Homo sapiens: one gene and its partner. The protein of the gene in region 2 interacts with the protein of the main gene of each other region in a pairwise test. Each region holds a gene or a part of one and is shown on either strand. Other genes may lie near its edges.

Region 1 (3,938 bases), on a different chromosome or scaffold from region 2:
CCAGGCACCCTAGCCATCCTCCTGAGCGACCACAGCTGCTGGGAGAGGCCCCCCTAATTCCCACCAAGAACAACTGAGGCTCCCAGACGGTAGTGGGGGCTTGTGAAGGCCACATGGGGGTCGGGTGGGGTGGGGATCTGATCTCGGCTCCTCCCCCACCCCCAAGCTCTCCCAGCCAGGGCCTGGGGATTCAGTCAGCCTCCAAGTCTCCAGGGGAGACCAGTGCTGCGGAGGTGTGGCTGCGGGTTAGCCAGTCCCAGCCCCTCTCCTCCTGGTCCCCCACCCACAGAGCTAAGCGCTCGCCGCTGCCAGCCAGGACAGGCCTGAGAACCCGCTGTTCCCAGGTGCTGCCCGCCACCCCCAGCGCTGCTGTGGGAAGATGTGGATGGCGCCCCATCCCAAGGTGAACTCCGCCGTGTGAGCGCCACCTAACCCCAAGGGCCAGGCCCTCTTCTGAACACCAACGCCCTGCTTGGCCGTGGTCCCCCACCTTCGGGCAGGGACTTTAGAGAAGAAACCCCTCACCCTGGGCCCTGCACAACCCCCAAGCACCCTGTGCGTCAGCTGCCACCCTAGCCCTGCTCACCGAGGGACCCCCACCCTGGGCCTTGGGGAGCTGCCCTTGGCACTCAGCTGCCGGGGAGGAGTGTGGGGTCACTCCGTGGCTGCCCGGCTCCGCACCTCCCTGCTGCCTGCTCTGGGGCCTGGTGTCCTCCTCCATCCTACTCTTACAGGTCACATGGGCCTCAGGCTGCTGCGCTGCCCTGGGTGGAGGGTCGCGGGGGGAGGACACACCCAGCAGATGCCATGGGGTGGCCAGTGTGAGCAGGCGGGCCCCCATCTGCAGGGTGCCCCCGGAGAGCCACAAAAGACTCAGCAAGGGCGCAGCTTGGGGGGCCCCAGGAGGTGGCAGGCACAGCTGGAGCCCAGGAGGGACCTGATTTCAGAGAAGTGGGGGAAGGGTTCAGCCTCGGCTGCTTGCAGGCCGGCCCCATCATTCCTGTTTGCTTTCTGTTGCTTTCATTTTTCATTTTTAAAACTTATGTTACCATTATTATTTTTATAGAGACACGGTCTTGCTCTGTTGCCCAGGCTGGAGTGCAGTGGTGCGATCTCGGCTCACTACAGCCTCCATCTCCCAGGATCAAGCCATCCTCCTACCTCAGCCTCCCAAGTATCTGGGACTTCAGGTTTGCACCATCATGCCCAGCTTTTTTTTTTTTTTTTTTTTTTTGGTAGAGATGGGGGTCTCACTATGTTGCCCAGGCTGGTCTCAAACTCCTGAGCTCAAGTGATCCTCTCACCTCAGGGCCAGGCCCTCCCACCCACTACCTGCCAGGCACCTCACAGCCACCTCACCCATCCCTCTGGGAATGGCCATCCGGATGCCACGTGGGTCACAGGAGCCCACCGTCGCCATGACAACCAGCCAAGCCCCATCCTGCAGCCAGCGCCACGCACGGGGCTTCCTGATTAAGGCCCACTTGCCCCACCCAGCCACTTTTCAAGTGGTCTCACTCGGTTTACTGCCCCCTCCTTCCAGGCAACATCGGAGGAGAGGGGCTTCAGGCCTGAGGCCTGGGTGTCTGTGGAGCCCAGACGCTGCTGCTCCGCAGATCTGATGATGGGAGCCACCTCCCGCCTCCCTTCCAGCCGGAGACGTGGCATCCGAGGCTCAAGGCGAAGGAGGCTTCTGGCCTGGGAAGGGCCTGGGCCTAAAAGTCGGGGATGGGTGCACGGATGGGCCTCTGTCATTCTGCACCTCCAATCTGGGATCCAGGCAATGCAGCCAGCCACCTGCAGCTGCACCAGGTGGGTGTCCCCTCCACTCATCCCAAGACAGCCTCCAACCACGCCCTGGCACCCACACCCACGTGACCACCCCACTCGCTGCCCGCCGCACCTCTTCCTCTGCAGGTTTCGCATCTTCTGCACGTAGAGCCACAGCTCCAGGCCCACGGGCAGCAGCAGCGGGCGGGGGCGGGGGGCGCCATACACCACCTTGCACACGGCCTTCTCCGCCAAGCTCAGGGCCAGAGGCGGGCCCTCCCCAGCAGGGGATGGCATCGCCAGGCCCCAGGCCCTCCTCCCCCAAGCCAGCCCTCGCCCCACCATGGCCACGGGTCCTGGGGGGTGGGCTGGCCTTAGGCTTCCCTGCCCTCTGACCTCCAGGATGGTGGGTTTAAAGCTCGGCGGGGGACTGCCAGTCCTCCAGCAGGTGCTCGGGGGCCTCCCCAATCCCTGACGTGGATCAAGGGATCAAGGACAGCTCAGAGGCTGGGTCAGCCTCGTCAGCAGCGGGGCGGGGAGCCCTGGGGTAATCCCGTCCAACGTGCTCCTCCAGGGACTGGGACCAGCGGCATTGCCCTCCCGTCAGTCACCCGCCAACTCCTCTGCAAACGTTTATCCAGTTCCCAGCGGGGGCTGCTCTGCCCCAGGACCGGGCTCACTCGGGAGCGCCAGGCACGTTTGTGAATGGAAAGAGGAATGGCGTCCAGAGTGTGTGAGTGCCCCCAGCCCAGCACCTCTTCCCCCAGGCCTGGCCCAGGGCTGGGCAAAGCTGGAATTCTGCGCAGTGGTGGCCCCTGGCCGCCTACCGGTTCTCCAGGCCCCTGTGCCTCCTCTGCTCCACCCGACCCCACCTGGCCCCCTCCCCAGCCTCCCTGGCACCAGCCCACGGTGCCAGCATGGGGCAGCGGGGGGGGGGGGCTCAGAGTCCTCACCATGCCAGCCCCACGTCTGCCGGGCCCTCTGTGCTCTCCCTCACCTGACTGGCCAAGGTGCGAACAGGGCCCCAGGTCTGACGGGGTCAGGGCCACGTGGGGCCTGGGGGATGCCGCTCCCCAGGTCGTGGGGCTTGGGAGGCATGGACCACGTTCCCCTAGCCTGGCTCCTTTCCTCAAACTTCCCAAGCCCCCGGCGTCCTTCTCAGCTGGGCTCCCAGCTTCTCCAGCCACCTGTGGCCCATGAGGAGGCTGGAACCTGACAGAGGCGGGGGACTGGGGGGGCAGGTCTTATCCCTGAGACGGCCACGGGGTCTGAGCAGAGGCAGGAATCCAAGGACAGGTGGGGGTCTTCAGGCCCTGGGCTCTCTCCTCCTTACCTTGAGGCCTTGTGGGCTCAGGGGTCCTACTCAGGCCAGACCATTTGTCCACCTTCAGGACAGCTTGGCCAAAGGCGGGGCAGGACCTAGAATGCCTCTCCCTTGCCCAGTCCTCGTCAACAGACTGAACCCTCAGACCCTCCGTGGTGGCTGGGGTGCCATCACCAAGGCCAGTTCCCAAGCCAGCACTGCAACTCCTACTACCTCCGGCCACCCGAAAGCCGTGTCCCTCAGTCCCAGCCCTGCTAACAGAATTGGCACCTGCCCCTCCCCAAGGCCGTCACCTACATGCTGGCCCCTGAGCAGATGCTGAAGAGACTCTGCTCACAGCTGGCTCTATCTGCCCCATCCCCCAGCCAGACACCCCCAGGGAAAACCACACCGACTCCCCTTCAGTGGCCAGGGGAGGGGAGAGAGTGAGGCGCAGGACCGGGCTGGGAGCACAGCGGGAGCTGGAATCACTGGAGAGGGGACTGAAGGTCACCCAGCTGTAGGAAGCACCTGGGGTCAGGCTTGCCAGGAATTCCTAGGGCCCGTCGCTGCCCAGCGACCCACCAGGGATGGTGCCCAGGACGGGGACAGGGGAGGGAGGAAGGATGGAGTGAAGGTAGGGGGTAGCATGGCCATGTGGCCAGAGAGGTTGCGGGGGGCCCAGTCCACACCTGAGGACGTCCTGTCTGGGAGCTGGTGACTGCTGCTTGGAGGGCATCTCTAACAGGGTCACCCCAAGGTGGGTGGCTCTGCTGCCCCTTCCCGGCCCCAGCCCCGGGGAGCACTCAGCTGGCCTTAAAGCAGGTGGGAGGCCAGGAGACGACCACCCAGGGTTTCCCCACTT
Region 2 (3,938 bases):
ACTATAGGCATGTACCACCAGTCCAGCTAACTTTTTGTGGTTTTTTTGGTAGAAATGAGGTCTGTGTTGCCCAGGCTGGTCTTGAACGCCTGGCTTCAAGCGATCCTCCTGCCTTGGCCCCTCAAAGTGCTGGGATTACAAGCATGAACCACTGCACCGAGCCAGAATATCCAATTATTATTGGTGAGAAGAAAATTATTCCAAAGTTCACCTACTAGTAGAAAATCTTGGTTGTCTGGGAAATTTTAAGTTTACTTAAAATGAACCTCATGCTCACATAAACACACAGGCACATTCTAAACAGATAACGGGAGAGAATTGTTTTAAATTCTTAATTTGTTAATGACATGCATAATCACATAGTACATAGACTGTGTTCATGGCAATTACTTGTATTCTTAGAATGCCAGTTTTTGCTTCATGCAGCCATTTATATTAGAGCAGTGGTTCTCAGCCAGGCACATTTTTGCCCCCTGGGGATATGCAATATCTGGAGACATTTTTGGTTGTCACAGCTGGGGAGAGGGGTACTACTGGCATCTAGCAGGTAGTGGCCAGGGATGCTACTAAACATTCTACAATGTACAGGACAGTTCCCTTCCCCAACCCTCAACAAAGAATTAGGTGGCCCAAAATATTAATAGCACTGAGGATAAGAAATCCTGTACTAGAAGTTGTAAGTTTTTCATCCCCCATGGGCTAGATCTGATATGCAGATGTATTTTATTTTGCCCATACAATATTTCTAAGTAATTTTTAAATTAGTTGATAGCATACAAATTTCTGGCTTGATGAAAATGTAGTTGATGTAGTAACTCTGAGCCTATATTCCAGCAGGATTTGATACTTTCCAGTGTCTACTATCTCCTACTGTCTACACCCACTCCATGGACGCATTTATGTTTCTGCACTAGCCCCTTATAGGCATTTGGGCCTGTGCTCTCTTTTCTGTACCTAATTCTCTAAGTGTGAGGCACAAAGCAGGAACCCTTAACTTTAGGCTACCATCCCTCCACCTGAGCCTCCCCACTTTGATTTCCTTGAACTATTCTCTGTTATCTGCTGCTCTTTTTTTTTCTCAGACAGAGTTTTGCTCTGCTGCCCAGGCTGGAGTGCTGTGGAGTGATCTCAGCTCATTACAACCTCTGCCTCTTGGGTTCAAGTGATTCTCCTGCCTCAGCTTCCCAAGTAGCTAGGATTACAGGCACGTGTCATCACGCCCAGCTAATTTTTGTATTTTTAGTAGAGGTGGAGTTTTGCCGTGTTGGCTGGACTGGTCTCAAACTCCTGACCTCAGATGATCTGCCTGCCTCAGCCTCCCAAAGTGTTGGGATTACAGGCGTGAGCCACTGCGCCTGGCCTGTTAATCTGCTACTCTTCATTTGTCCATCCTCTAACAGTAGCCATGACTCAAAACCCAAGTTTTCCCTGCCTTGACTCAAACCCAAGTTAGCTGCTTAATATTTTTCAAAAGCAGTAATTTTAAGTGTAGTGATTAAGCAAGTGATACGAGATTTTCTGGTGACTGATGAGACAGCTCCTCCAGTACTTTCCTGGGGCTTGCAGGCTGTTCTAGAGATCCTTCTAAACCCTGCTCTGGATCTCTGATGCTGAGTTTTGTAGTTTCTTGGAACCTGCAGAATAAATTAAAACATGAAAAACAAAAAAAATTTTTTTTTCAGACAGGGTCTCACTCTCACCCAGGCTGGAGTGCAGTGGCATGATCTCAGCTCACTGCAGCCTGGACAGCCCAGCTGAAGCAACCCTCCCACCTCAAGCAATCCTCCCACCTTAGCTTCCCAAGTAGCTGGGATTATAGGCACGTGCCACTGCACCCAGCTAATTTTTTTTTTTTTTTTAACTTTTTGTAGAGACAGGGTTTTGCCATGTTGCCCAGGCTGGTCTCAAACTCCTGGGCTCAAGCGATCCACCCACGTCAGCCTCTCAAAGTGCTGGGATTACAGGCGTGAGCCACCGTGCCCAGTCTGAAAAAAGAAAGTCTTAAAGCACTGTGTAAGGTTTAAGAACGGTCTCTCCCAGCACTTTGGGAGGCCATGGCAGGTGAATCACGAGGTCAAGAGATCAAGACCATCCTGGCCAACATGGTGAAACCCCATCTCTACTAAAAATACAAAAAATAGCTGGGCGTGGTAGTGGACACCTGTAGTCCCACCTACTCAGGAGGCTGAAGCAGGAGAATCGCTTGAACCCGGGAAGCGGAGACTGCAGTGAGCAGAGACTGCAGTGAGCCAAGACTGCGCCACTGCACTCCAACCTGGCGACGGAGCAAGACTCCGTCTCAAAAAAAAAAGTCTCAACATTATTACTATTTTATATGGGATGTAAAGGAAAATTTCTAGGGGTATAAAACTGAGATAGGAATTAGGGTAGGGGCTGCTAGGATTTAAGATACAAAACAATTGAGAATAATGGAGAGAAGATACTATTTTCTCCCTTTGACTCAATATCAAAATGGGTTATGGAGGGCCGGGCGCGGTCACTCACGCCTGTAATCCCAGCACTTTGGGAGGCTGAGGAGGGTAGATCACGAGGTGAGGAGATCGAGACCATCCTGGCTAACATGGTGAAACCCCGTCTCTACTAAAAATACACAAAAATTAGCCAGGCGTGATGGCGGGAGCCTGTAATCCCAGCTACTCGGGAGGCTGAGGCAGGAGAATGGCGTGAACCCAGGAGGCGGAGCTTGCAGTGAGCCAGAAATCGCGCCACTGCACTCCAGCCTGGGCAACAGAGTGAGACTCTGTCTCAAAAAAAAAATACAAAAAATAAAAAAAAAAAGGTTATGGAGAAGGTGATACTAATGAGCTACCTTTAAGGAATGCTAGAAAAACAGTTTTATAGTTTTATAAGAAGTCAAAATATACATGATTTTTCTTCAAAAATAAAGTAGAAATAGTTTCAGCTCATGAAATTGGAACTGGAATTGGAAAATGATCTGTTTCAAAATGGAAGAAAACGAAACATAATTTGTCAGATTTTATTCACAACTGCATCACTCTCTAAATTCAAATGTGTTACTTGGAGATCTCTGGATTACTTATTAATGTTACATAAATACAGGATTATGATCTCAAAATACCAGTGGCTATTCTAAAGTTTCCTCCCAGTGGTATTACTGGGTATGACAATTTAGAGAGCTGCAGAATGACAGCAACATTTCAGGTTACCTGGGAAAATCCTTGATTTTGGTCTCTTTCTCTTGAACAGCCCGGGTGCCTTGACCCTTGTTTCTCACAAAGTCTTCCTCCAGCCCAGCCTGCTTCAGGGTGTCTAGATACCACTGTTCTGCTTCTTTCTTGGCTAGATCCTGTGGGATGGAAATTAATCTGTTGTAGCTGTCTTATGAATTACCAGACAATTCTAAATTACTTAATCAGTATTGTTACAATACTGCCACAACCACCACCACCCTTATTGTGGGGCATAGATTTGCAAGAAAATTATTTAACCCTTGTTTTCCAGCCTTAATGTGTATATAAATCACCTGAGGTCTTGTTAAAATGCAGATTTCACATTTGGTAGGTGTCAGATGAGGACTGTAATTCTGTATTTCTAACACTCCCCAGAGATGCCAAACTGTTGATTTGGGAGTCACAATTTTGAAAAGCAATGACTTAGACTTTTGGGAGACAAATGAGACCCAGATTTAAAAGGATGGACTAAAAACCTAAGATTTTAAAGCAACAAACCATTATCAGGAACACTAAAATAAAATAGAAAATAAGCTACACCAAGACTCTTAGTGGAAGGACAGATGGTCTGCATGTGGACCAGCAGAATATTATTTTTTGTTTAAGTATTCAAGAACAAAATCATAGAGTACTTTGTATTTTTCCTAGAGAGGTGAAAGATCTGTTGAGATCTGAAGAGTGAGCTTGCTTAACATTAACATAAAGAAGCATGAGATTTTGAACAAT

Evidence for each region.
Region 1: the proteins of FAM161B (region 2) and GPSM1 interact in binary tests that used the Homo sapiens proteins (3 or more experiments, as listed by UniProt).

The regions. Positions count from the first base shown.
Region 1 is NC_000009.12:136,330,136-136,334,073, reverse strand, and holds part of GPSM1 (G-protein-signaling modulator 1), read right to left. Parts: intron 1-3,938. UniProt on the Homo sapiens protein: Guanine nucleotide dissociation inhibitor (GDI) which functions as a receptor-independent activator of heterotrimeric G-protein signaling.
Region 2 is NC_000014.9:73,932,761-73,936,698, forward strand, and holds part of FAM161B (protein FAM161B), read right to left. Parts: intron 3,329-3,938; coding exon 3,189-3,328; intron 1,635-3,188; coding exon 1,496-1,634; 3' UTR 1-1,495.